Linked DNA regions of Homo sapiens: region 1 is linked to region 2. The links come from fine-mapping of genetic effects on gene expression. A gene starts in region 2. The other region holds a variant in brackets. All regions are shown on one strand. Distances are from middle to middle.

Region 1 (15,116 bases), 130 kb before region 2:
AATTTAGTCGGGAGGGATTTTGCCCAGAAGGGTTCACCCAGAACTCAGTTTACCAAAACCTGTCCATGTATCAGTTCCCAGGCTTCCTCTGCACCTCCTCTGTCATTTCCCCACCCTGTCTACTCTGCTGAGGTCCAAGACCATAGACCCAGCTGGCTACCCAATATTTCCCTCTGAACCCTGTGCTGCAAACTCATAGCTAAACACTTTATCTTCCTCCCATAAAGTTTCTCTCCTACCCTTACCTTCTTAGTTTTTATATAATGCAATTGCTCTTCCAGGTACACAAGACTGAAATGTCATCCTGGTCTTGTCAATGTCATTCTCTTTTATATTTCCACATTAACATTATTGTGTCACAGGTGTCAGATCTGTGTTTGATGCTAAAGGATAAAATTTCATTGGTAAGTTACAAGATGGCCTTCCAAAACTGGAAAGAGATATAAGATATATCATAAATAAACATACGCTAGGGTAGTGTGAGCCTCAAGAGCCACCCAGGATATGCTGGCACAGCTCTTGCCTTGTCTGCTTCTTCCTGTCCTAGGTTACCTTCTTGTCCAGGCCTCACCCTCTCACATTTCTTAATTCTTATTGTTCCTTAGTAACCTTTAACTACAGTCACTTGCTATAAACCTGCCCCTGCTTAATCATAAAACACCATTTGCTCTATCTATCTATCTATCTATCTATCTATGTATCTATGTATCTATCTCCCGCCTGTAATCCTAGCACTTTGGGAGGCTGAGGCGAGCAGATCACCTGAGGTCGGGAGTTCGAGGCCAGCCTGGCCAATATGGTGAAACTCTGACTCTACTAAAAATACAAAAAATTAGCTGGGCATGGTGGCAGGCACCAGTAATCTCAGCTGCTTGGAAGACTAAGGTAGGAGAATTGCTTGAACCCAGGAGGTGGAGGTTGCAGTGAGCCAAGATTGCTTCACTCCACTCCAGCCTGGGCATGACAGAGCAAGGCTCCATCTCAAAAAAAAAAAAAAAAAAATGGTAACAAAAGCCAAAATTGACAAATGGGATCTAATTAAACTAAAGAGCTTCTGCACAGCAAAAGAAACTACCATCAGAGTGAACAGGCAACCTATAGAATGGCAGAAAATTTTTGTAATCTATCCATCTGACAAAGGGCTAATATGCAGAACCTACAAAGAACTTAAACAAATTTACAAGAAAAAAACAACCCCATCAAAAAGTGGGCAAAGGATATGAGCAGACACTTCTCAAAAGAAGACATTTATGCGACCAACAAACATATGAAAAAAAGCTCATTACCACTGGTCATTAGAGAAACGCAAATCAAAACCACGATGAGATACCATCTCACTCCAGTTAGAATGATGATCATTAAAAAGTCAGGAAACAACAAATGCTGGAGAGGATATGGAGAAATAGGAATGCTTTTACACTGTTGGTGGAACTGTAAACTAGTTCAGCCATTGTGGAAGACAGTGTGGCGGTTCCTCAAGGATCTAGAACCAGAAATACCATTTGACCCAGCAATCCCATTACTGGGTATATAACCAAAGGATTATAAATCATTCTACTATAAAGACACATGCACACGTATGCTTATTGCAGCACTGTTCACAATAGCAAAGACTTGGAACCAACCCAAATGCCCATCAATGACAGACTGGATAAAGAAAATGTGGCACATATACACCATGGAATACTATGCAGCCATAAAAAGGATGAGTTCATGTCCTTTGCAGGGACATGGATTAAGCTGGAAACCATCATTCTCAGCAAACTAACACAGGAACAGAAAACCAAACACTGAATGTTCTCACTCATAAGTGGGAGTTGAACAATGAGAACACATGGACACAGGGAGGGGATCATCACACACCGGGGGCTGTCGGAGGGTTGGGGGCTAGGGGAGGGATAGCATTAGGAGAAATACCTAGTGCAGATGACAGGTTCATGGGTGCAGCAAACCACCATGGCATGTGTATACCTATGTAACAAACCTGCACATTCTGCACATATATCCCAGAACTTAAAGTGTAATTGAGAAATAAAATAAAATAAATAAAAATAAAAATAATTTAAACATTTTTAAATTAATTAATTAAAATAATAAAACAAAATAAATCTATTTCCCAGATGATAGGAAGATGACTGATATTTATCTAGCTATCATCTTCCTAGATCTATCATTTCCTAGATTAGATGATAGATTACAGATAGATAAATAGAAGATAGACAGATAAATTCCTTCTTTCAAATATCCAGTAGTTCCCCGTGGCCTGTAGAATAAAGCTAAAGATGTCAAAGATCTTCAGAGAAGACTCAAAACCCCAAATGCCCAGCACCATTGTGAGCTCTGATTCTGCCATATAAGTTTCAACTCTTTGTCTTTGCCACCCTAGCCTCTTACTAGGAGACATCATCAGATATCCCATGTCTTACCTCTCTATCAGCCTCTATCTTTCTGAGCTTCTCAACCAACTTCTGATGGTATTACTTAGAGTGGCCACATACATGTTTCAAACAGGCAAAGAAAGTGCCGTGTGGGATGTGCTCTGACACAGGAGGTGATGGCTTCCAGGGAAGCCTAGAGTAGTGAGCTCAGAGCTGGGAATCTCAGGAGAAGAAGCCTAGGCCAGAAAGAGAGAAATGGAACTATACTAGTGTTAAGTTCTTCTACTGTATGTTAGGTAGTATAATATCGCTCAAAGTTAGTGGTATAATAGTCACTAAAATCACAAAACAGAATTAAAGCCAAAAAAAGTAACAACCAACAGAGGAGAAAATATAGAATGTATTTAAATACTCAATTAATTCAAAAGAAGGCATAAATGAAGAAAAGGGTAATAATGAAGCACAAATATAAAACAATAATATGATGTTACACTTAAATTCAATCGCATCACTAAGCACATTAAATATAAATGGTTTAAGAGACAGACTATCAGAGTAGATAAAAAATCAGGATGCTAATATATGCTGCTTACAAGAACTGTACTTTAAAGATATAAATAAGTTAAAAGTAAAAAGATGGAAAAAGATACACCACACTAACACTAGTCAAGAGAAAAATGAAATTGTTATATTAACAACAAAGTATATTTCAGAGCAAAGAATATTATCATGGATCGCAAAGATTGTTTTTATAGCAAGGTGTTAAATCATCAAGATGAAAGAACAATCCTAAATATTTATGTGCCCTAATAGTAAACTTTTAAAATGCATAAAGCAAAATAATAGAATTACAAAGAGAAATAAACAAATCTATAATCAACCTTAGACACGTCTGTATCCATCTCTCAATAATTAAACAAGTAGATAGAAAATCAGCAAGAATATAGAATACTTGAATAACATTATCAGCCAATCTGACCTAAGCTATATAATTGACATCACTGAACATCCCTCCTAACAAGAGCAGAATACGTTTTCATTTCTAGTGCACACAGAATGTTTACAAAGGTAGACCACATTCTATAGCCATACAAGCCTCAATAAATGTTAAAGGATTCAAGATTTATGAAATATATTCTCTTACTACAGTGGAACTAAATTAGGTAACTGCAAAAACTTTCCCAAATACTTGGAAGGTATATAAACCATCTAAATTATCCAAGGATCAAAGAAAAAATAAAAAGATGCATTATAAGATAATTTGAACTGAATGAAAATGAAATAAAAATAATAAATTAGTGAGAGGCCACTAAAGTAATACTTAGAAGGAAATTTAGAGCACTAAAGGCCTATATTAGAAAATAAGATGCACATAAAATCAATAACCTTAGCCTCCACTTTAAGAAACCAGTGAAAAAATAAGCAAGCCTGAAAGTAAGCAGAAAAAAAATAAATAAAGAGCACAATAGACATTATTAAAAGAGAAAAAAATTGTAGAGAAAAATCTATATAATCAAAAGCTGGTTCTTTGAGATCAATAAAATTGATAAACCAACCAAAGAGAGAGAGAAGACACAAACTATCAAACTACCAACATCAGGAATGAGAGATATGACATTATCAAAAATTTGATAGCCCTTAAAAGGATAATGAAAGAATATTATGAACAATTTTATAACAATACATTCAACAACTTAGATTAAATGGACAAATTCCTTGAAAGACACCAACTACCAGTCAACACTCAAGGAGAAACAGATAACTTGAATAGCCATCCCTATATGTATATTAAGGGATTTGAATTTGTAGTTAAAAACCTTTCCACAAAAACATCCAGGCCTATAAATGTCCAAATAAACATTTAAGAAAAAAGTAATAGCAATTCTACAGAAATTCTTCCAAAAAATTGAAGATGAGGAAATATTTCCATATTCCTCCTATGAGGACAACAAAAAAGACATTACAAGAAAGGAAACTACAATCAAGATCCCTAATGTACACAAAAACAAAATGCTAAACAAAGTATTAGCAAGAAGCAGCATGAGTTGAACATTTGGTGATCAGAGGGATAGGCTCTGGTGATTATTGTTCTTTTCACCATGTAAGTCATGCTCTCTCCCATTCTGAGCACCTGGCAGGCTGGCCTGTCCTGGTCCCTTGTGACTGGGTGGGGCCTGCCTGTGTCACTGGATGGCAGAATGGGACCATGCTATTCTCTTTGCCTTCAAGGCTAGCCGCTCAGGACTCTAAGAACAGATGATGATCAGGGCCCCTGCCAGTCCATTGGGGAGGGGGCGGGGGGTACAAAGCCAACACAAGGAAGAAAACACAGTTCTGGAAGTCACTGAGATTTCAGGGTTACTTTTTCACTGCAACATAACCAAGCCTGTTCTGACAATGCTCTGTACACCACCACAGGCCTGCTAAACTCAGATCTCTTGAGTGGGGCTTGGGAATCTGCAGTTTTACCCACCACTCCAAATTTGGAGCCCTCTAAGCCCCACAGTGGCACAGAGCAATCACCCCACCTTGCACTGCTGGTCTTAGCCCGGCCATAGGGTTCCTGCATCACCAGGTGTGTCCACTTCCAACCATCACTCCCCACTTCCCTCGAAGCTTTTCTCTGTTCCTTACTCAGGAACGGTGAGGAATTCATTACAGAGATTATTTTCTGTGTGTCTAAATCTGTGTATCCCAAATTCATCTCAAGATTAGACTCTTCAGGACAGCTTACTAACAACACAGAATTCCTGGGGATGACGCTGAAAATCTGCATATACAACAATTGTCCCAGGTCACTGTGATCACCAGGGAGGTTGGGAGAGGCTGGCATAGTTGGGCAGGATGACGGTTGAGCTCTCCACTAAGACACAGCTGTGCACACACAAGCTCCAAGAGACAGGACAATTATCCACCACGATCACAGTCTCCTTCACTCTCCCTTAGTTCTAACATTTTCATCAGAAAAAGAAACCTATATATTAATTTATCTTACTTTGCATATATTAGTTGATTATAAAACATTCTAAACACCTCTAACTAGTTGTTATGGGTTGAACTAGGTCCAGCCCCCAGGTAAGATGAGTAGATATTCCCAAGAACAAGCTTGTTTTGACAGATGAATCCTGAGGAGGAATGCAAAACAATGTTTTCTTAATGAGATTTTTTAAATACTCAAATTCTGAATAACATGAAAGTCACACAGATCTGTCTTGGACAGTCAGCATCGGAGGAACTGGAGTATGGCAGGACCATGTCGTGGCCTCCAGCCACCCATGTGGAAATGGAATCTGGGTATCTTATCCAGAACAAAGACAAACTGAGATCCTGTAAAACACAGGCCAGCAGAATCACAAAGGCTGAGAGAGATCAACATGCAATCCGTGAGCTCTACAAATTCCCAAAGAAGAGCGCCTTCATCTGCTGAGCTCTGGTCGCCTGATGCCCCTGTTACCCAGGCAACCTGCACAGCATCCATATTCTGGAGCTCGTCAAGGAAAGGCTGCTTGTTTCCCAAATAATCTATTGTTCCTAATATATTCTAATCAGTAATGATCTCAGTAAAACATCTACTAAAGTGTTTTAGTGATGAAAATGCAAAACGATAAGATGGCCCTAAGCCCTCATCCTGCTGGCTGGTGCTCAGCATCTGCTGTTTGTTTGTTTGTTTGTTTGTTTGTTTGTTTTTGAGACAGAGTTTCACTCTGTCGCCCAGGCTGGAGTGCAGTGGCACGATCTTGGCTCACTGCAACCTCCACCTCCTGGGTTCAAGCAATTCTCCTGCCTCAGCCTCCTGAGTAGCTGGGATTACAGGCCTGTGCCACCATGCCCGGCTAATTTCTGTATTTTTAGTAGAGACGGGGTTTCACCATGTTGGCCAGGCTGGAGTCGAACTCCTGACCTGATTCAGGTGATCCGCCCACCTTGGCCTCCCAAAGTGCTGGGATTACAGGCGTGAGCCACCGTGCCTGGCCTAGCATGTGCTCTTGATTGACAGGGCCCATCACCTCCTGTGCTGGGTTATGTTGCTGTTATTTCCAGTCATATTTAAGACTCAAGCTATGATACACTATTAGAGCACTGCAGTCTATATGTTAGTGTATTTGTACCATATACACGTGGCTTTAGGGGGTTATGACATGTGAGTTGTACATGGTGGCCATTACTTCCCACATTTTACCACAGTACACTTCACAGAAAACTAAAGAGGCACAGCTCATGATAGCAGCCCTGAAAACAGTGTATACTAGAAGGTGGACGTGGAGAGTCACTGGTATTGAGCATCCAGCAACCCATCAACAGATACTTCCTAATAAGAACTTCTCCTGGTAAACAAACAATATTATGGTCATGAAATCTGAGCCTACATGAGGTTGCACTTGTACTCACCAACAATCTCACTGGGTTCCTTGTTATAAAGCTTTCTGTTCCAGTAAAGGAGTCTGAGGAGCGGAAAGCAGACCAGGAGAACAAGGCAAATCCCAATGAACATGTGTGCAGTGAATCCGGCAAAGTCCAGGCCCTGGAAATAAACAAGGGGAAATGAAATGGCAGCCCAGGCATGGTGGCTCACGCCTGTAATCCCAGCACTTTCCGAGGTGGGTGGATCACGAGGTCCGGAGATGGAGACCATCCTGGCTAACACAGTGAAAACCTGTCTCTACTAAAAAATACAAAAAATTAACTGGGCGTGGTGGCGGGTGCCTGTAGTCCCAGCTACTCGGGAGGCTGAGGCAGGAGAATGGCGTGAACCCGAGAGGCGGAACTTGCAGTGAGCCGAGATCATGCCACTGCACTCCAGCCTGGGCGACAGAGCGAGACTCCGTCTCAAAACAAACAAACAAAAAGAAACGGAAGACGGGCCTTTCCTCCGCACAGGCAGCAGCTCCCTGAGTCAGGGTCCAGGGAGGGCCAGAGCCCAGGAGGGAAGGGGCTCACCAGGAGTTCCAGGACCTTAGGCAGAGGTCCTGGAGCCCAACACAAAGCCCACGAAAGACCACGGATTCCTTACCATGATTTTGAAAATTGTTAACGTTTGTTTCTTTCATGTCGAAAACCAAAAACCAATTCTTACACAAATGACAAGCCATCATAGGAAGAAACAAAAACAGGCTACCACATCTAACTCAACCTTGGCTTGGTCCATCTTCACCACTAGATTGATGCCTTCCCCAAGATAGGGTGAAAAAAGACTGAATGGGACAAAATACTAAACTATATGATAATATTTGCCCATTTAAAGGTAAGTTGAATTTTTAAACACTTCATTTAAGTCCCTGCCATCGGTTTGAAAGTGTCCTCGTGGCTGGAGAGCACAGCCCTTTGCAGGGCACTCAGGGCCCATCAGGGCTGGGATCGCTTAGAGCATGGGGACCAGCCGCAGGGACTCAAGCAGGAACCTCTCCTTCCCGGCACGCTTCCTTTGCCTGCCTAGGGCTCTGCACGTGGCCGGCCACTGAGGGTATCTTTAGAGTTGGGCAAATCCCCACTAGGTTGATTTGTCCTGGAATAAGTCAGCGGCGTCATTGGTTGGTTCTGTTCTTTCACACACAAACGTCCTGGAATAAGTCAGCAGCATCATTGGTTGGTTCTGTTCTTTCACTGACGTCCTGGAATAAGTCAGCAGCGTCATTGGTTGGTTCTGTTCTTTCACTGACGTCCTGGAATAAGTCAGCAGCGTCATTGGTTGGTTCTGTTCTTTCACTGGCGTCCTGGAATAAGTCAGCAGCGTCATTGGTTGGTTCTGCTCTTTCGCTGACGTCCTGGAATAAGTCAGCAGCGTCATTGGTTGGTTCTGTTCTTTCACAGACGTCCTGGAGTAAGTCAGCAGCGTCATTGGTTGGTTCTGTTCTTTCACAGACCATGTGCTTTTACACCTTCAGCACATCTGTGCAGGCACCTCCTGAGCCCCCAGCAGGACAGATGAGGCTCTTATCCCCATGAAGCTGGCCATCTGGCAAGAACTCAAGGTCTTTTCTGTAGTGTCCATGAATCACAGGTGCCACAAAGGGGGTCAGAGGCACAGTGACAATGCACGACCATGGGGAATGACAGGGGCAGGGTGGGAGGGACCACGGGCAGTCCAGCTCTGCCTTGGGACCCTTAGGAACCTCTTACATAGGTAGAGGGGTGGCAAGTCACACAGAACGTTAGTGAGGATCCCACGTTGGGAGTTTGGAAAATCACCTTCCAAAGGTCTGGGTTTGAGTGATTTAAACTATATTAATTGTTCCTTATTAAAATTTATGTATTTTTCCTCTCACTTTTAGAAAATATGTGAAATCACTTTCAACATTATTAAAGATACAACACAACTAGAGGCCATTATCAATGAAGTTGTGTAAAAGTTTAGAGCTTGCCAATATACAATAATCTGAAATGCTTAATCCCTTGCAGTTACCGG[C/T]ACATCCAATGGTTGTCCTTGAAAACAGCATTACAAATGACAGGTGGAGCTATATAAGCTAATTCCTGGACAGATGGCAGGGAAACCACACAGAGGCGGGACTCATGGAATGCTTTGGGTGATCATATAGAAGAATTCACCACTTTCCCGATAGTTCTTCAATGGGGGTATTACATTGAATTTTGTGTTTATCTCTATAATTCATACCCCAGATATCTGAAAAAGATCCACGATACTTTTAGGGGCTTATGAAACTGTTTTAAATTCTTCTAAACTCAGAGGCAAAAAAAAAAAAAAAGGAACTGTTGCGTCAGAGAAAATGATTTAAACTATAGTACTAATATATTTATACACTAGCTGGGTCATGAAATGCAATTGTTAATATTTTTTAGAGAAAATGTCCCAAGAAGACAGAAGTACCTATATCCTGAGTAATTCTTGGTCCCTCTAGAACATAATAACTATAAAGTTTTGCCCCATTTGAAATGTTGGGGCAATTGGAGAAAAAAGTGATGAGTAGATAAAAGAAAAAAAAAAAAGTAAGGAGGTCCTGGGTGTGCGTCCACAGCAAAATGACACAGCACTGAGTGAAGCATTTGGTTGCTACTAGACTTGCGATGGGTGGATTCATCAAAAGAGCAATGATAAGGGAAAAATCCAAACTGATCACTTTAGGAAACAGGCAGATGCAGTGTGCAGTGGGATGCAGATGTTTGCACTAAGCTTATTAGGCGCAGGTATCTGGGACACCCTGCTGCTTTTACATGCCTCTGTAATTTCCTAGACTCTCGTCTGTGTTCCCAGTAACAAAACTATCCACCAGCACACTCACATCAATTCAGCGCCTAAATGCGCTCTTTCTGCTTCAAGGTGCCACTTCTGCTTTGTATTGTTTTATTATAGGCTCCACTCAGTCATTTTCTTCTTAATTTTCCCCACTGTCCTCATTTGATGGATTAAATGGCCAAATATTAGGCACGTAAACCAAACAAAAGAGGAACCCTCAATCAGATCAGAACATTCCCAGATTCATAATCTACATACATTTAAGGGGACACGCCTGAGGGACTTCTGGCCCACCAATATCATTTTCTAGGAATGACGCTTCAGGCTAGCTCTGTGACAAGTCAAAATGGTCCATTAGGTTGCAAAGGAGGGGCTCAAGCCAAAATGATTTCTTGAATTCTTCCATGTGAAAATTTAAAAAAAAAAAAAAGCTTCTTATGAAGTGTTTAGCTGAATCTATTGAATATTTTAGTAAAATATGCATGGTGTAATTTGAAAATATAATCCTGTCTAGATGGCCAGTAAGGAGAGGACCCAGCACTGCAGGAATGCGTGTGGGCCAGACGGGGGTGTGGGTCTCGCTGCTTGTAAGGGATCCATCAAGCATAGGTGCAGGGGTCCTGGCACACATGGGTCTAAAGGAAGAGCCTCTGGCAGAGACACAGATCCCAGCAAGCTGAAAACGGAGCAAGCCACGGAGGGGATGAGCTTTGCTAGCCAGTGCTGATCTGAGAGGAGAAAAAGGTCAAAAACGAAGACCCCTGAGCCCACAGATATTAAATAGGTGTGTGGAAACCAACAAACCAAAAAAAAAACCCCATAAAGGAAATTCAGAGGGGGCCAGAGAGGCAGAGCAGGGCCCACAAGAGAGAGACACTGTCTCAATTAACACCCAAGGGAGTGGGGGAAAAGCAGTAGTGGAGGAGAAGCCAAAGAACTTCACAGCACATGCAGCATGGCAGGAACGCAGGAAAAACGCCCCAGCAGGCACGGCATGGTGGGAAAATATGAAGAAGGTCCCAGCACACACAGCACGGTGGGAAAATGTAAAGAATGTCCCAGCACGCACAGCATGATGGGAAAACATGAAGAATGTCCCAGCATGCACAGTATGGCAGGGAAAGCCTGAAGAACGCCCCAGCACACACGGCATGGTGGGAAAACATTAAGAATGTCCCAGCATACGCAGTACGGCAGGGAAAGCCTGAAGAACGCATGCTGGGAAAACGTGAAAAACATCCCAGCACACACAGAATGTTGGGAAAACATAAAGAACATCCCAGCATGCACAGTATGGCAGGGAAAGCCTGAAGAATACCCCAGTACGTATGGCATGGTGGGAAAACGTGAAAAACGTCCCTGCACACATGGGATGGTGGGAAAACAGGAAGAACGTGGCAGCACCCACGGCATGATGGGAAAACGTAAAGAACGTCCCAGCATGCACAGTACGGCAGGGAAAGCCTGAAGAACTCCCCAGCAAGCACGGCATGGTGGGAAAACGTGAAAAATGCCCCAGCATGCAAGGCATGGTGGGAAAACATAATTATAATGTCCCAGCAAGCACAGTATGGCAGGAAAGCCTGAAGAACGCCCCAGCATGCCCGGCATGGTGAGAACACGGAAAGAACCTCCCAGCATGCAAGACATGATGGGAAAACGTGAAGAACGCCCCAGCACGCATGGCATGGTGGGAAAACGGGAAGAATGTCCCAGCAAGCCCAGCGCACAGTATAGTGGGAAAAGTATAAAAAGCATCCAAGTACACAACGTGGGGCATGAAGGGAAACCTGTCTTCTTACAAAGATGCTATTCAGAAGCATAGGGGCACGCTTCCCTCAAGAGACTTTTCAGGTATTATTTTAAAGATAGTTGAATAGTTTTGCTCACCATGGTGAGTCTCTGTAGAACAGGCATAAAGGAGCAAATGTAACCAGCAAAGTAAAACTTTATCCTGTCAGCTTGTTAGGAGCTGAAGGTGCAGTGGGTTGGTGCGCGTGGATGCTACAGCCAGGCCGACTCATGCTTACCCAAGGGAGGCTTGTGGCTGGGGAATAAGTGGTTGTCCATGTGGTGGGTCCTGGAGGTCCTCCCTACCTACCTGTCCAGTGCTGGAAATTCCACCGACAGAGAGTTATCCCAAGAGACCTGAGAGACCTAAGCCTCGTGCAGCAATGGTAGGTGGCAAGAACTTTCCTCACAACTTCCTGTCGTTTCTGCCCAATGCTCGGAAAATGTGGACGAGTTTTCAGATGTGACTTCTTTACTGTTCCAAACTCTAGTGCTGATTTGTTTATTATTCCTCCAAACTACATAAGTATTCATTTTCTTTGTGAATTTTTTTTTCATTAGCTTTAGGGGTGCAAGTGGTTTTCGGTTACATGGATAAATTATATACTGGTGAAGTCTGGGATTTTAGTGCACCCATCACCAGAGTAGTGGACATTGTACATAATATGTAGTTTTTCATCCATCAACCCCTCCTGACCTCCCCTCTTCCTAGTCTCCAATGTTCTCGTTACCAGTGTATGCCTTTGCATACTCACAACTTAGCTCCCACTTATATGTGAGAACATGCGGTATTTGCTTTTCCATTTCTGAGTTACTTCACTTAGAATAATGGCCTCCAGTTCCATCCAAGTTGCTGCAAAAGACATTAGTTCATTCTTTTTTATGGCTGAGTAGTATTCTATGGTGTGTGTGGGTGTATATACACGCATATCTCTCTCTCTCTCAAATTTTCTTTATCCACTTATCTGTTGATAGGCATTTAGGTTGAGTCCATATCTCTGCAGTTGTGAATTGTGCTGTGATAAACATAAGTGTGCCGGTGTCTTTTTGATATAATGACTTCTTTTCCTTTGGGTAGATACCCAGTGACTGGATTGCTGGATTGAATGGTAGATATACTTTTAGTTCATTGAGAAATCTCCACAGTATTTTCCATAAGGGTTGTATTAATTTACATTCAAACCAGCAGTGTATAAGCATTCCCTTTTTACCACATCTGTGCCAACATCTATTGTTTTTTGACTTTTTAATAATGGCCATAATGGCCATTCTGGCTGTAATAAGGTGATATCTCATTCTTTTAATTTGTATTTCCTGATGATTAGTGATGTTCAGCATTTTTTCATATGTTTCTTGGCCAGTTGCATATCTTCTTCAAAAATGTCTACTCATGTCATTTGCCTACTTTTTATTGGGATTATTTTTTTTTTCTTGCTAATTTGTTTGAGTTTCTTATAGATTCTGGATATTAGTCCTTTGTCAGATTCATAGTTTGCAAACATTGTCTCCCATTCTGTAGGTTTTCTGTTTACTTTGATGGTTATTTTATTTTATTTTATTTTATTTTATTTTATTTTATTTTATTTTATTTTATTTTATTTTTGTGACAGAGTCTCTCTTTCTCACCCAAGCTGGAGTGCAGTGGTGCAATCTCGGCTCACTGCAACCTCTGCCTCCCTGGTTCAAGTGATTCTCCTGCCTCAGCCTCCCGAGTAGCTGGGATTACAAGCATGCACCACCACGCCCAGCTATTTTTTTATTTTATTTTTAGTAGAGATGGGGTTTCACCGTGTTGGCCAGGCTGGTCTCTAACTCCTGACCTGAAGTGATCCTCCCACCTTGGCCTCCCAAAGTGCTGGGATTACAGGCGTGAGCCACCATGCCCAGTCTGCATTAGCTTTTCAGTTTAATTAGATCCCATTTATTTTTGTTTCTGCAGCATTTGTTTTTGGGGTCTTTGTCCTAAATTCTTTGCCTGGGTCAGTGTCCAAAGGAGTTTTTCATAGGTTTTCTTCTAGAATTTTTATGGTTTCAAGTCTTAGATTTAAGTCTTTAATCCATCTTCAGTTATATTGTATATCGTGAGAGATAGGGATCCAGTTTCATTCTTCTACATGTGGCTAGCCAGTTTTCCCAGCATCATTTACTGAAGAGAGTGTCTTTTACCCAGTTTATGTTTTTGTATACTTTGTTGAAGATCAGTTGGTTGTAAGTATTTGGCTTTATGTCTGGGTTCTCAATTCTGTTCCATTGCTCTATGTGTCTACTTTTATACTAGTACCATGCTGTTTTGGTTACTATAGCCTTTTAGTATAATTTGAAGTTGAGTAATGTGATGTCTCTAGATTTGTTATTTTTATTTAGGATTGCTTTGGCGGCTATTCAGGCTCTTTTTTGGTTCCATATGAATTTCAAGATTGGTTTTTCTAATTCTGTGAAAAATGATATTGGCATTTTGATAGGAATTGCATTGAATCTGTAAGTTACTTTGGGCAATATGGTCATTTTGTGATACTGACTCTTCCAATCCATAAGTATGGGATGCATTTCCATTTGTTTGTGTCATCTATGATTTCTTTCAGCAGTGTTTTGTAGCTCTCCTTTTAGACATCTTTCAACTCCTTGGTTAAGTATATCCCTAGGTATTTTATTTTTTTGGTAGCTATTGTGAAAGGGATTGAGTTCTTGATTTGATTCTTGGCTTGGTCATTGTTGGTATATAGCAGTGCTACTGATTTGTGTACATTGATTTTGTAACCTGAGATTTTACTGAATTCATTTATCAAATCTAGGAGTCTTGGAGGAGTCTAGACTTTTCTAGGTATAAGATCATATCAGTGGCAAACAGACATAGTTTGACTTCCTCTTTTCCAATTTGGGTACTCTTTATTTCTTTCTCTTGTCTGATTACTCTGACTAGGACTTCCTCTTCAGGAATAATTTTAAAATTAATTTCAAACTTAAGTTTTATTTCATAATCTGTTTTCTTCCTATTTGAGTTCCTTGATGAACAAGTAAACAATGCAAAATAAATATGCACATCATGTGAGGCAAATGTATGGCTGTGCTGTCACTATTGATAATGAGGCTTTATAAATTTATCTCTACTGAAGACACTGTCCCTGAAACTATGAGTGCATCTGTGTCTCCATACAGAGAAGTATTTCCTTATCTCCAAACTACTGTGAAATAAATTAAAATCAAGGCCGGGCATGGCGGCTCATGCCTATAATCTCAGCACTTTGGGAGGCCGAGGCAGATGGATCACCTGAGGTCAGTAATTCCAAGACCAGCTTGGGCAACACAGTGAAACCCCATCTCTACTAAAAATATAAAAATTAGCCAGGCGTGGTGGTATGCACCTGTAATCCCAGCTACTCAGGAGGCTGAGGCAGGAGAATTGCTTGAACCCAGGAGGCGGAGGTTGCAGTGAGCCAAGATCACGCTACTGCACTCCAGCCTGGGCAATAGGGTGAGACTCCATTACAGTTTAATTCCCAAATTCAGAGAAAGTCATTAAGTAGAAGACAAGGAATGCTGTCTTCAGTAAAATAAGGACAGTCCTAAGGCCATCTTCCCAGAGAATGTCACTTTGGCAGAAAATTGTATGACAAGCCTGGGCTGAGCCTCAGCAAGACCATAGGGTGTACTCACCTCCAGGGTCCTCACCTTTCTTTCCTACCATCGTATTTAAAACCTGGATATCTTAAAAAGGCTCGTCATATGCCATGGAGGATTGTAGCAATGGTCTGACAGAC
Region 2 (15,116 bases):
GTTCACTCCTGCATCACCAATGGGAATGTAAAATTGTACAGCCACTCTGGAAAGCAGTTTGACAGTTTTTAAAAAAAAACTAAAATTGCAACTACCAGCCAACAATTGCACTCCTGGACATTAATCCCAGAGAAATGAAACTTTCATTCACACAAAACCCTACACGCAAATGGTCATAGAAGCTATATGAAAAATTGGAAGCCACGCAGCCGTCTGTCCGTAGGGGAGTGTGAAATAGGCTGCGGTGCATGCATGCCGGGAAGACCACGCCACAATCAAAAGGAACAGACAATTCATACACAGCAACGTAGAGGAATCCAGAGTGAAAATCCTCAGTGAAAAAAAGCAAGTTCCAACAGACTATTTACTCTGATTCCATGACTACAACATTCTTGAAACGGCAAAGTTATATCAATGGGGAACAGGTTAGTGGTTGTCCGGGGTTGAGTAGGGGCTCTCGTTCCACCTCACTTCCTGCCTCTTCCCTGGGAGACAGAGGCCTCTGCTCACCCAGAACTCTCCCTCTTTCTCACACATTCCTCATCCAGTTCTTCCAAACACATCCTAACTCCTCCTAGTCCCACCTGGTCATCGCCTCTCATGCAGATGATGGAGCACTCCAATCCCACAGCCTGTCCCTTAGGGGACCCCAACACCCTAGCACACAGCCTGTCTCCTAGGGGACCCCAACACCCTAGCACACAGCCTACCTCTGGGGGACCCCAACACACTAGCACACAGCCCGTCCTCTGGGGTGACCCTCCCTTCACCCCAGCCCGTGGCTGCACTCTCACGGGAACCACAGCTTCAGCCTGGCTTTGCTTTATTGGGCCCCATGCGCTTGACTTGCCTAGGGCAGGGCCACCCTGGGCAGAGCTCCCGCCCGTAGGGACACCTGCAGCTGGCGGGAGAGGGGTAGGGGAGCTGTAAGCCGGCGGCACAGGGCGGAGTATGCCACAGCCCCAACCCACCCCTCCAGGTCCTCCCCGCGATGGCGCCCAGGACCCTCCTTCCAAGCAAGACTCACACCGAAGTCACCAAATTTTAGAAAGAAAAAATAGATAGTTGTGGCTTATTTTTAGAAAAAAAAAATAGATGGTTCAGAGTCGGTGGAACCTTCCAGTCCTCACACTCAACCCCAAATCGTTCGTGTGGGCTACTGCCGGCCCTCTCTCCGGCTCTGCGCTCTTTCTGCCTGCAACCGTGCCCCCGAACTCGGGCCCTGCGAGGTGGGGGTGGGCCCGGGCCCCTCCTGCCGCCCCTGCTGCCAGCACCGTTCTCTCCGAGGCCCTCAACGCCCCGCCGTGCCGTGGCCTTCAGAGCGCGCCAGACGCTCACCAAGCCTGCCCGAGCCCCGCCTCCCGCAGCCGTGCCCAGGGCGGAGTGGGGCGACGGCACCGGTGCCAGGACCGACAGAGGCCAGGGCGCGGCGCCGGGCGTGGTCCTGACACCTGCCCTGCCGGGAAGGGGACGGCGTTCCACGCCTGGGCCCTTCTCCACTGCGTACAGGAGCCTGGGTCACCTGCTCGGCCCAAGAAAAGGCTCCAGGCCTGCGGGTGTGAATGAGCAGCAGCCAAGAGAGCGGTGCTGCCGGCGCTCAAGCTAGGCCGGGTCACCGCCTCCTGCCCAGGTCCAGGCAGCCCCGGCCTTTCCCGCTGGTACTGGCACGCCCGTGGCCGCACGGCTGAGTGCTCCGGGCATGGTGGGTCTGCGGGACTCGGAGCAGAGCTCGAGCTGGCGGATCCCCGGTTGGCGCCCGGCGGGAGGGCAGGAGTGGCCCAGCCAGGCCGCCCTGCGCACTCCCCGCCCGGGTGCGCCCGGGGGACCGCGGCCCTCCCACCCCGCCCCTGTGAAACGACAGCCGGCAGCAGGCGCCGCACGCCGACTTCACAGTGGCGGCGATCAACAGCGTGTGGAAAACAGCTTCTTCGTAAATCTTAAGAACATTGTGGCCGGGCGCGGTGGCTCACACCTGTAATCCCAGCAATTTGAAAGACCAAGGCGGACGGATCACTTGAGGTCAGGAGTTCGTGACCAGGCTGACCAACATGGAGAAACCCCGTCTCTACTAAAAATACAAAAATTAGCCGGGCGTGGTGGCGCGTGCCTGTAATCCCAGCTACTCGGGAGGCTGAGGCAGGAGAACCGCTTGAACCAGGGAGGTGGAGGTGACGGTGAGCCGAGATGGCGCCATTGCACTCCAGCCTGGACAACAAGAACGAAACTGTCTCAAAAAAAAAAAAAAAAGAACATTGTTCTTCGAGTTCTTTAAATATCTGACATAATACCGGCAAGGAACGAGAAGCACCAGGTTTAGGCGCTGAGGTGAAAATTTGGCTGTTGAAAGGCAGTCCCTCTGCAGCCAACTCCCCTCTGGTGGACAGTGTCTAACATCCAGAGAAAACACCCGTCACTGAACGCTCCCCTCCCCACAAAGCGCTGCTTGGCCCCAAATCGTCCCTAATGCGCTGCTCAGCCCCAAGGCGTCCCTCTGAGCGAGAAACCGCCCCTGGCTATGCTTGCAGGGGCCTGGCTGGGTCCACAGGGCATGGCTGTGTCTCTCGGAGCACGGCCCTTCTCTCCGGGGGCCTGGCTGCGTCTGCAAAGGCGTCAATGTGTCTCCGGGGGCGTAGCTTGTCTCCGGGGCGTGGTCGTGTCTCCGGGAGGTGGCTGGTCTCGGGGGCGTGGCTTGTCTCCAAGGCGTGGCCGTGTCTCTGGGGGCATGGCTTGTCTCCGGGGCGTGGTTGTGTCTCCTGGGGCGTGGTCGTGTCTCTGGGGCTTGGTAGTGTCTCCGGGGGCATGGCCTGTCTCCGAGGTGTGGTCGTGTCTCCGGGGGCGTGGCTTTTCGTTGGAGGTGGTCTGTCTGTGTCGGGCGTGACTGTGAGCCGGAGGCGTAGCCGTGTCTCGGGAGCCTGGCGGTGTCCGCAGGAGCGATGCTGTGACCGTTGCATTTGAAGCATTCCTTCTAGTTCCCGGATCCCAGGGAGGGGGCAGGAGAAGCCCTGCGGCCAAGAAGGCCTGAAGAAGCCCGTCCAGGGGTCAGCCTCCTCCTCAGCCGGTCCTGGGCTGAGACAGGGGTGTCCCGCTGAGGGCAGTGTAGGGTGCGGTGCCCCCACCCCACTTCGGGCCTGGACCGAGACCGCGAGTGTGACCGTATATCCCTTCAGGTGGATTTTTCAACATGTGAACTTGGTTAAAAGCTTCTAGAACGTTAAGCCAAACATCGTGGCTTTCCATCCGTTTTCTGTTCTTGTTTGAAAGAGTACGCCTCCTTCCAGCCTGGGAGGAGGGGCGGGGCCCGGGAGAGGGCCTCGGGAGGCCGCGGGTGGGCTCTGCCGAGGGCCGCGTTCGCAGGGCCCCCCGGGACTGGCGGCCCCGCGGCAGGCCAGGCGCACCTCTCGGGGAGAAACGAGCAGCGCCAGCAAACGCGCAGCCGGGCACGCGGCCGCCCAGCCCCGCTCCCAGCCCGGGGCCAGGACCCCTCCCCGCGGCGCCGCTGCCGCAAGCCTCCTCTGCTACCCCAGCTGCGGGCAGTTTGGCCCGGCGCTGTGCCGCTGTAGTTCGGTGTCCCTTCGCCCATCCTGCAGGCCAGCTTGGAAACTGTGTCCCATGCTCCTCGAAACACCGGACCTGCTCCCCGCCGCCCTGCGGAATGCGCCTCCTGGCGCCTCAGTGGGTGGCCGGGCCGAGAGCACAGGCGCGCCAGCCACACCTCCCCACGGGTCGGACCCACACGGACCCCGCCGCGCTCCGCCGAAACTGCGCGGGTCCCGCGGGTGGCCGGCGCAAGAGCCACAGCCCGCGACAAGCCGGCTGCCTGCAGGTCAGTGACAGAACCCCAAATGGAAACTGCGGAAACCCAACAACCAGCGAGTGAGCTGGTAGAGCCAGCGGCCCCAAGGAGCTGAGGGAGCTCCGGCTTGTGGAGTCTCTTCTCACATTTCCAGCATATGGAGAATGCCACACTGGGTCAGCCCCTGCCCCAGATCCTGCCCCCTGGCCTCCAGGCTCTGGGCTTTCCTCCCCTCTGTGGTAGCCTTTATCTCCATTGCAAGCCATCTTTCCACTACTAACAGTTAAAAGCCTCCCCTTTCTCTCTACTCTCCCAAGAAACCTCATCCTCACCTGTGGACAGGTGGCCGCCCAACTCTCTTCTGCAGCTCAAACCACTGTGTCCATCTACCTCTTTGTGTCCCTAGACATAAAGGTACCCAAAACTCCCAGAGTGCTGAAGCCACACCTGGCCTTTCCCAGGGGCCCACTGATCCCACCATCCATCACCCATCACCAACTGGGAATCCCCCCTGCAGCTCACCAGTGCTTCCCTGCCCCGGCCTGGCAACCACACTCAGTGGGAAGGCCTTGGCAGTGGCTTTCTTCAACTCCCCAGCTGCTCCCAACCCCCCAGCCACAGTGATCTTTCCAAAATGCATATGGCCTCAAACTCAAAATATTTCCTTGCTGCCTGCCACTCCAGCATAGAAACGGGGACCCAGGTGACACAGGTGTCATGCCGCTGGGTTTCCAGGGACAGCCAGGACCTCCCCATTCCTGGTATTCCTGATATCCTCAGATCTCAGCTGCTCCAGGGGCTGGAGGTTGCGTTCTTCTCATAAAACAAGAACAGTATAGGCATTTGCTTTTCATCAGTGTAATGAAACTTTAGGGACTTATGATCCTAAATCACATTACACCAATGTGAACTGCACTCAAATTGTTGTAAACTAAATTTGCAGAACAAGCAGTTTTTGTGCAATTCTTTGCAGTCTACTCAGCTCTTTCATCTCTGTGTTCAGGTTCAATCCTCATTAGTTCTTCTATGAGAGATAGTTATCCCCAGATGCGTTCAATGCTCAGCTCCTTGCCCTGGCAGGCCCCGTCCCAGGGTCCTGGATGGCAGATGCCATGCCCGCCCCGCGAAGCTCAGGCTCACCAAGCAAGCAAACCGCAGCTGGTTTAGGTAGACAGCAGCTGCCCACAACTGCTAACAGCCTCGGGTTTCTTTTCCTCAGAATCACTCACCCTAAATCTACACATTGTAGACTGTCACATTGGTCTAAGTAGTGCTCCTCAAAGTGCACTGCACATTAGAGTCACCTGGGGAGCTTCACCGCCGGGCCCCAGGCTCTGATTCGCCCAATGGGAAGGGAGCACCGGGCACTTGTCCTGAGCCCCTGGCCCCTGCCTGGTTCTGCAAACCCAGAGCGTCCACATACCAGGCTTCCTGTGCTTAACATTGTGTCCTTGAAAAGAGCTAGCTGCACTAATGCCCATTGATTTCACTGTGTGTGACCACAGTAAAGAGAAGCAGCTTTGAGGGATTTAGTGTTTTCACTCCAGTGCATTCCATTCTAAGGAAACGCCTGACCACGGCTCATGGCTAGGAGGCCCCGCAGTGCCAGATGCTGCCCTGGAGTTCAAGTGGAACATTTGCTGTCTGAACCTTTCCAAACTCCCCCCACCCATGACCTCATGGCCCACCAGGGGGCGACTTTTTCCTGGGTCGCCTGGCAGAGAGCCGGAGGGGGTGCTCAGGGGGCAGCTGCTGCAGGCCCAGGCGGACTCAGCCGCGCTAGGTCGGCTCCGTCGCACCCGTCTGTGCACACTAACCTTTAGGGGAACTTGCCTTGCTTCCTAAGCCGCGACTCAGCCGGGGCTGTGTAAACCCTCCCTGCCTGTTCCCAGGCTAGTCTGGCTCCTCGCCTCCTTCCTCCCGACCGCGGAGCACGTGCACTTTACCTGCGCACTTGCAGATCTTTCTCCAGGAGTGAGTTTAAGGTCCGCACCTCCGCTCTGGATGGTGAGCGGAGCACAGCCTTCGAAGTAAGAACTCAGAGGGAGCTCGGCGCTCCCGCAGCGGGTCCCCCACCCAGGCACGCCCCCGGCCCGGCCCCGCCCACAGCACTCCCCACTCGGCCCCGCCCACAGTGCGGCCACGCCCGTAGCACGCCCCTCCCGGCCACGCCCACAAAGCTGCCCACATGGCCCCGCCCACAGCTCGCCCGCTCCGCACCCCCGGCCCCTCAGCTCCCCAGCCCCCGGCGGCGCGGGCTGAGAGCAGCTCCGTCTAAGGCCACGCCGCCCCGGCGTCCCCGACAGCGCTCTCCGCGGGGATAGTTTCCAGCTTTACCTCTAAAGAGGCGGCCCAGGACTGCGGACAGGCTTTTCCCTATGAACAAGAACGGGGAAATGCTCAGTGAACATTCTGTTCCCTTCAGAGCTCTCCCAGCGGGCACTGAGAGGCCCTCCAGCTAGGACGCCAAGGTTACACTTGCCGACAGCCCCTCCTGCAGCACAGACACACACACGAGATACACAGACACACACAGATACACAGACACACACAGATACACACAGACACACACACAGATACAGAGATAGACACGATATACACAGACACAGATACACAGATACACATACACAGAGACACACACAGAGACACAGCAATACACAGACACACAGATACAGGACACAGATACACAGATGACACACAAGGACACATGCAGATACACAGACACACATACACAGATACACACAGACACATGCACAGATACACAGAGACACACACACAGGCACAGAGATACACACAGATACACAGATATACACACAGACACAGATACACAGACACACACAAATATATACAGATACTCAGACACAGATACACAGACACAGGTACAGACACACAGATACAGATACAGAGATACATACAGATACAGAGATACAGAGACACACACAGATACACACACGGACACACACAGAGATACACAGACACAGATATACACAGGCACACAGATACAGACACACAGATACACACATGCACAGATACACACAGATACAGAGATCTACACACAGAGATACACAGACACACAGATACGCAGACACAGAGATACACAGATACATAGACACATACAGACACACACACAGATACATGCACAGACACACACGCAGATACACATATACAGATATACAAACACAGATATACGCACAGACACACACAGATACACACACAGATACAGACACACACACAGATACACGCACAAACACATGGAGACAACACAGCTACAGACACACACACAGCTGCAGTGGCCAGGCCCTGCACAGGAATTGGCAGGAAGTAAGAGGCTCCATCCACAGTGTAACAGCAGAGCTGAAAGAGATCTCATGCCTTATAACAGAGCACATTGCACAGCCACAGGGTGGGCCAGGGGTTGCCCTGGTAGCAGGGACCGAGGATGTCCTCGGCATGGCAGGCTCCAGGACACTGAAGTTCCCAGCCAGGGCCCTGACAGCAGGAGAGCCCGAGATCTCTGAGACCACATTCACTGTCGCATGTGCAGACCCCTCAGTTCAGACCGCCGTGTGCGTTAGGTGTGGATATGGCTGGCAAGCAGCCTGCATGGTGACCCCCATCCTTGTGGGATGGCGGCTCCAGGGAGCCTGTGACCACCGATGCACCAGTTCCCGTCCCAGAAATACTGTCTCCTCCTCGCTCATCACTGCACCTGCTCCCCTCCCAGTGCCTCAGGGACACTGTTACAGGGCGGGAAGGGGCTGGGGCACAGAGCCCGGGGGAGGCTCCCTGAGTGGGCAGAAGGCTCTTGGTGTGCACGCAGATCTGTCGAAATGCGGGCTTTGAAACGCCAGCAGGACAGCTGCGGCCAAGCGTGTGGCTCTCTGTGCCTTGCAGGTCACAGTTGTTTTTGTGTAACTGCTGAATGTATGGGGAAGGAGCAACCCTACCCCAGCTCCAGGGATAGACCCTGAGTGGCCACAGTAATGGAGGAAACCCAACTTCCATGCCAGGGACTGGCTCGGGTGAGCCAAATCTATGTGTCCCAGCCCTGGCGGCAGCTGAGGGGTGACAAAGCCCCCCCGCGAGCCGACAGGCACCCACACCCAGCACAGCCACATGCTCACTGTCTCTGGGCTTCTTAGCTGCCGTCAATCAGTCCCCTTGGTTGATTGACCCTCAGGGCCAGATGGGGTTTCCTTTCCTGGTGGCTGAGAGTGAGTGTTGCCTGCAGATGCATCAATGGAAGCCTGTGTGTGACTCGAACAGCCAAACTTGCCTTCAAGGGGCACCGTGCTTCTTCAGTTACAAGTGATTGGGGCCAGTCTCAGAAATGATGTGGTTTCTCCTGAGCATGAAGATTTGGGTCCCAAACAAGATATGATATAGAATTATACTTTTTTGGCTGGCCAAGGAAATTCCAGAAGGAAATCCCAAAATAAGGTCCCCCTAAATGTTCTTGGCAAAGAACAGCACCATTGGAATCAGATATAAAAGCCAAAGGTGGCTATTTCCAAGCAGAGGGCTGGGATGCGGTGTCGCTTTTGTGTACGTGTATGTGCATATTTTATGTTTGTGGGTGACCCAGTGAAGGCACCCTTGGCTTCTTGCCCTGGACAGGCAGTTGTGACTCAGAGGACAATGGTCCAGGAAAGTGAGAAGCTCTCAGAATTGGGCAGGCCTGAGGGTGCAGGAAAGCGCTGCCTCCCCAGACCACAGCATCCAGAGAGAAGAAAGCGCCTCCCAGCCCAGCCCTCCAGCCCCGTCATGGGGAAATCTGTCTACAGCTTCCCTTTATGAATCCTTCCCCAGGGGTCCCCGGGGCCACCTGCTGTGCAGGCCTCTGCAGTCCCCAGTCTCTGCCTGTTCCTGCCATGGTTCAGCCCACAAACCCTATGCACCCACCCCTGCCCGAAGTTGGCTTGATTCAGCAAGCATTCTGTCAAGTTCCCAGATCCTGCGGGTCTGGAATTCAGAAAGGCACAGTGGAAACAGCTCGTCTGCTCCCCACTGCAGCCAGGGCAATGTGAAAGCTGGAAATGACTGGAGTCTGGAGGATCCGGAGGTGCACTTGCTCACTCTAGGGCGGGTCTGTCGGCTCTGCCACGTGGCCCCTGCACCAGCTCTTGGACTTCCTTACAGCATGGCAGCTGGGGCCCAAGAGACAGGAAACAGAAGCCACCAGTTCCTTAGGGCCTGCACCCAGGACTGGCAGGTGTCATTTCTGCCATATTCTATTGGCCAAGCAGTCAAGGAGCCCAAGGAAGGACACAGACACCAGTTCTTGAGGGGAGGAATGTCAAAGAACATTGGAGCCATGTTTTTTGTGTTTGTTTCTGTTTTTGAGACGGAGTCTTGCTCCGTCGCCAGGGTGGAGTGCAGTGGCGTGATCTTGGCTCACTGCAACCTCCGCCTCCCGGGTTCAAGCAATTCTCCTGCCTCAGCTTACTGAGAAGCTGGGACCACAGGTGGGCGCCACCACACCCAGCTAATTTTTGTGTGTTTAGTAAAGATGGGGTTTCACTATGTTGGCCAGGATGGTCTCGATCACTTGACCTCATGATCCGCCCACCTCGGCCTCCCAAAGTGCTGGGATTACAGGCGTGAACCACCGCGCCCGGCCAGAGCCATGTTTTAAAGTTACCACGGCTTTAGGAGGCAGGAGCTGCATAACATGAGGGCATGATGCTACCTTCTGAACTTAAATTCCGGACTTTAAAGACATGTTTAAATGTAATGAGCTGTGGAGTCACAGGAACTCCCATTCATTGCTGGTGGGACCGCAAGATGGTACAGCCACTTTGGAAGACAGTTGGGCCGTTTCTTACAAAACTAAACACTCTTAGAATATGATGCAGCAACCAATGTTCCTTGGTATTTACCTAAATGATTTGAAAACTTATGTTCACCCAAAATCTGCACACGGGTGTTTATAGCAGTTTTATCTGTCATTGCCAAAACTTGGAAACAACCAAGATGCCTTTCAGGAGGTGAATGAATAAACAAACTAGGGTACATTCAGACAATGGAATATTTATTATTCAGAGCTAAAAAGAAATGAGTTATCAAGCCATGAAAAGACACAGAAGAACCTTAAATGCAGATTACTAAGTAAAACAAGCCAATCGGAAAAGGCTGCATACTGCCTGATTCCAACTAGATGACTTTCTAGAAAGGTAAAACTATGGAGACAGTAAAAACATTGGTGGCTGTCAGGAGCTAGTGGGGAGCGGAGGGATGACTAGCTGGAGGGGATTTCAGGGCAGCGGCCCTAGTCTGTATGATACTGTAAGGCGGATACAGGGCATTAAACATTCGTGCAAACCCACAGAAGGCACTGCCCGAGTGAGCCTCGATGTAACCCGAGGCCTCTGGATAATGCTGGTGTGTTGGTGTAACCCATGGGCCAATCTGGTGGGCAGCATGTGCACTGGGGCAAGCTACATGTGTGGGGTGGGTGTATATGGGACTTCTCTGTACCATCTGATCGATAATGTCTTTCTTTTAATGAATTAGAGGAAAATAGAAAGTCTCATTTGTCTGTGGGGAAAAAATCAATTTTGAAAAGTGAGTGGGATGGGCAAAAACTCCAGGACTGACTCAGGAATAAAAACGATTATAAACTTCATCCTGAAGAGGGTGGGTCCTGTGACTGGGAGGGGCTGGCCCAAGTCCCGGGTCATCCTGAGCTGAAGGCTCCATGCGGAGGGGCGGCCCTGGGTGGCAGGAGAATGGGGAGGCCAGGCCCGTGGGGGTGGGAAGAAAGTGGGGTCCTGAGAGCTGGTGCTCCAGCGGGGAGCGAAGCTGGACACGGGAGTCTGCAGCTTGAGGGACGAAGGTGCCTGCTATTGCTTCTGGATGTTGAGTAGTTGGTATCTCTGTGCGTGTGTGTTTCCATTTGCATTTGGATCCCATGAGACATGAGGCCCAGGAGGTCCTGCAGACAAAAGCCTCCCACCCTGTGGAGCTGGCCTCCATGCAGAATGGACCCATTCGAAGACCTTTTTAAAACGATCTTTTGTATTTTCTTGTTTTAGAAACGGGGTCCCTCTGTGCAGCCCAGGCTGCAGGGAGGGGCATGGTCATAGCTCACTGTAGCCCTGAGCGATTCCCTGTTTGAAGTGTTGACTATCTTGACTATCGGGGAGGAGTGAGGTCTGCGCGATTCGGCCTGGAGGACCCTGAGTAGGACTCACTCGCCAGACTGGCTGCCAGTGGGCCTGGCCCTTCCTGACATGGTGAGCCATCATGGCATGTCCCTGGCAGTGACAAGGAATGTCCTCAGGCCCCGACCCTCCTGTCCAGGCCACCCAGGGCAGGCCTGTCAGGGGCCTTCCTTGTTCCAATTTTTCAGAGGCCCAGCGCTCTCCTTCCGCATCCTGCCCACCTGCCCAGCTGCAGGCAGCATGGGGAGGGGGATGGGGTGGGGAGAGGGTAGGGAAGACGGTGTGTGTGAGGGTGAGTGTATGTGAAGGGGCCAAGATTTATGTGTTTAGGAGGTGTGTATGTCTGTGGGGGGTGTGTGTGACGGGCTGTATGTAAGGGATGTATGTGTGTGGGGGGTATATGTGTATGTGTATAGGGTGTACGTGTGTTTGGGGTTGGTGTACGTGTGGGTGTGTGGGTGTGTTTTGGTGTATTTGTGTCTGGGGTGTGGGGGGAGGGTGTACGCATGGGTGTGTGTGTACATGTGTGTGGTGGGTGTGTGTTCATCTGTGTGGGGTGTGTGCATGTGTGGGGTATGGGAGTGTGTGCGCATGCGTGTGCCTGGTGTGTGTGGGGTGTGTGTGCATGTGTGTGTCTGGTGTTTGAGTGGGGTGTGTGCATGTATGTCTGGTGTGTGTGGGGTGTGTGCATGTGTGTCTGGTGTGTGGGGTGTGTGTGCGTGTGTGGTGTGTGTGGGGTGTGCGCATGTGTGTCTGGTGTTTATGTGGGGTGTGTGCATGTGTCTGGTGTGTGTGGGGTATGTGTGTGGGGGGGTGTATGGGGGGTGTGTGCATGTGTGTCTGGAGTGTGTGGGTTATGTGCGCATGTGTGTGCATGTGTGGGTGTGGGGGTGCATGTGTGTAGTGTGTGTGGTGTGGGGGTGTGGTGTGGGTGTGTGTGTGGTGTGGGGGTGTGTGATGTGGGTGTGTGGGTGTGGTGTGTGTATGGTGCGGTGTGTGTGTGGTGTGGGGTGTGTGTGTGCATGTGTGTCTGGGGTGTTTGGGGTGTGTGCATGTGTGTGGGATGTGGGGGTGTGTGTGGTGGGGTGTGTGCGCGCATGTGTGGGGTGTGTGTGCGTGTGTGGGGTGTGTGTGCATGTGTGTCCGGGGTGTGGGGTGTGTGTGCATGTGTGTAGGTTGTGTGTATGTACGTGTGCTGTGGGGGTGTGTGTGGTGTGGGGGTGTGGTGTGTGTATGGTGTGAGGATGTGTGTGGTGTGTGTGTGGTGTGGGGGTGTGTGGTGCGTCGGGTGTGTGTGCATGTGTGTCTGGGGTGTGTGTGTGCATGTGTGTGGTGTGTGCATGTGTGGTGTGTGGGGTGTGTGTGCATGTGTGGTGTGTGGGGTGTGTGTGCATGTGTCGGGTGTGGGGGGTGTGCATGTGTGTGGTGTGTGTGCATGTGTGTCTGGGGTGTGGGGTGTGTGTGCATATGTGTTTGGGATGTGGGGTGTGTGTGCATGTGTCTGGGATGTGGAGTGTGTGTGCATGTGTGGGGTGTGGGTGTGTGTGTGCATGTCTGTGATGTGTGTGTGCATGTGTGTCTGGGGTGTGTGTGCATGTGGGGTGTGAGAAGTGTATGTGTGTGTGCATGTGTGTGGGGAGTTCTGTGGGGTGTGTTCACGTGTGTGAGGTTTGTAGGGGTGTGTGTACGTGCCTCGGGTGTGTGTGTGCGCATGTGTGTGGGGTGTGTGTATGTATGTGTCTGGGGTGGTGTGTGTGCGTGTGTGGGTGTGTGTGCATGTGTGTGTGGGGTGTGTGTGTGCATGTGTCGGGGGTGTGTGTGCGTGTGGGGTGTGTGTGTGCGCGCGCGTGTGTGCATGTGTTGGGGGTGTGTGTGTATGCATGTGTGTGGGTGTGTGTGCGCGTCTGGGGTGCGGGGAGCATGCGTGTGGTGGGGGTTCTGCCTCTCACTCCCTCACCCAGGAGGAGGCTGTACCCAAGGCAGTGTTGCCAGACTGGGCCAAGCCAGGAGCAAGGCTGAGCGGCTCCACCCGCGGGCTCCCGGGCTGGGACCCGGGGTGTCACCCGCAGTGCTGAGCGTTTGTGCTCTGAGACCTCGTTGTCCCCAAGGGTCTCTCCACCCTCCGGGCCCCGGCCTCCGGCCCCGCCTGGCATGAGGAGCGGGGAGCGCACAGCAGGGTGGGGGCACCGGGCGCACGCGGGGAATTTCCCCACGACCACGGCCACGCCAAATGCCTGAACCTCCACGGCTGCCGGCAACAGCGAGCGCAGGGAGGGGGCTGTGCGCGCGGGGGCCCTGGTGGCGGAGCAGGCATCACCCCGAGAGCGCCGAGGTTTGTGGTCGCAACCCCGGGAGCACCGCTGCGGGAGGAGCGGCGTGGCCGGGCAGAGGCGACTTCCTCGCAGGCAGTACCGGGCCCCGCGGCCGCCTCCGGGCCTGTCCTGGTGCCCCGGGCTTCCACCCGGCGGGCTGGCGTGCGGGGGCTGGTCTTCGCCGAGATCCTGCTGGGAGCGGGCTCTGGCCCCACGGTGAGCCCGGCCCCAGCCTCGGTGATGCGCTTCGCTGCCGCGCGGGGAGGGAGAGTCCGGCAGGGTCACGAGGCGCCGGCCCCGGGGCCGCTTGAAACCCGAAGAGACCCCGCTCGCTCGCGCGCCCGCCGGACGAATCCTCGCGGAGGTCCCGGGGCGCAGCCGGCGTGAGGGTGGGGTCTCATCGCAGGGGCGCCGGGAGCCTCCCCGCTCCGCTAGCTCAACCAAGGACCGCTCAGAGGGGCTCTCACCCTGAACCTCGGCTTTTCTAAAGGAAGGGCAGACCCCAGATTTCCCCCTTCTCTTCTCGAACGTGCTTTGGGTGTTTTTCTGCTTTCTTTTTTGGCAAGTCAGGACAGCGCACAGTGCACGGAGCTCCGAAGCTCTCTCAGCTACTCCCGGATTTCTGGTTAAACCTGAGGGTGAGCCCGAAAGACCGCTGCCGCCGGCGGCCACCCCAGCGCGGGTCCGCTGAGAATGGAAACAGCAAGTGCGCGCCGGCCAGGCCGCCACCTCTCCCTCCTCCAACAGCCCGGGCAGCCGCAGGGGCCAGCCCCGGGCCAGCCAGGGCCCAGCACAAAATGCCTTCCAGCGACAGCAGCGCCGGAAGCCCCTTCTGAGGTCGTGGATAAGCCTCCGCGCAGGGGCCCCGCGCTCAGCCCACCCCGCATGCCTCCGCGCCAGGGCCTGCTGGTGGGTGGCCGCCTGCCCCGGGCTATCCCGGGCTGGGCACTGGCGCCGATCCCGCCTCGCTTGTGGAGCTGCATTTGGGGGGAAAGATGGACCGGCAGCGTGGGACGCAGAGCCAGGCCAGGCCGCACGGGCTGTGCACAAAGATATGCCCGACAGGCGGGGAGAAGGCATGGCCCACCGGCTCAGGAGAAAGTCCTGGAGGGGAGGCAGTCCGCCCCTGGGGACAACGCGGGGGGCCGTATTCGGACACCACCAGAAGTTCCTGTCGGAGACGCTAAGGGTGCCCACGGTGTCGGGCACCATGTAAAGCTCTCCTAACTCTAAGCAGACTGCAGTTTCATGCACATCATAAGGGCACAGCCACTGTCACCGATTCTATCAGCAGAAAAGCAAACAGGCAGGAAACCACAATTAATCCACAATTCACAATGCTGGTGAGCTTCCAAACAATTGTCAATGTGACAAGTTTCCACTCCTAGCACAGATGGGTCGTCTGTCTTTTCTACAGTTTAATGGTCTCGGCTGCACACATTTGTCTGTCAAAGTGAACTATATAACTTCAGGCTTTGGAAGTTGGATGAGAGTAAAAAGTTAAACTGAAGGTGACATGGAACTGTCCGAGAGAGTCCTCCTGTCCAAACATGAAGAAGCTGTGGCTACAAAAATCACTTTTTTTTTTTTTGTGGGAATGAAGTGCCCTCTAGTATGCTTTTAGTTAAAAAAAGAAAAAAAGAAAAAAAAAAAAAAAAAGGCCGGGTGCGGTGGCTTACGCCTGTAATCCCAGCACTTCGGGAGGCAGAGGCGGGCGGATCACGAGGTCAGGAGATGGAGACCATCTTGGCTAACACGGTGAAACCCCGTCTCTACTAAAAATACAAAAAAAAAAAAAAAAAAAAATTAGCCGGGCGTGGTGGCGGGCGCCTGTAGTCCCAGCTACTC

Which allele goes with the higher level. Alleles are on the strand shown, and positions count from the first base shown. SD is a standard deviation of normalised expression in the study named.
With allele C in place of T in region 1, the expression in caudate of the gene that starts at base 5,831 in region 2 is lower (moderate effect, 0.45 SD a copy in GTEx).

What was found. PIP is the estimated chance that this variant, and not a neighbour inherited with it, causes the effect. A credible set is the group of variants that fine-mapping cannot tell apart.
Region 1: its variant is the best candidate, but not a certain one, in a credible set for the expression of OCA2 in caudate (GTEx, PIP 0.64).

What each region holds. Positions count from the first base shown.
Region 1 is chr15:27,959,923-27,975,038 of GRCh38, forward strand. OCA2 (OCA2 melanosomal transmembrane protein) reads right to left here. Exons shown (of 24, transcript NM_000275.3): 15 at 6,768-6,900. Among named protein-coding and RNA genes, the nearest start is that of OCA2, 130 kb to the right of the region's middle. The variant C/T (reference allele first, on the strand shown) is at 8,782.
Region 2 is chr15:28,093,485-28,108,600 of GRCh38, forward strand. It overlaps OCA2 (OCA2 melanosomal transmembrane protein), which reads right to left and starts at 5,831. Exons shown (of 24, transcript NM_000275.3): 1 at 5,740-5,831. RefSeq lists enhancers at 5,126-5,778, 13,719-14,280, 14,281-14,841.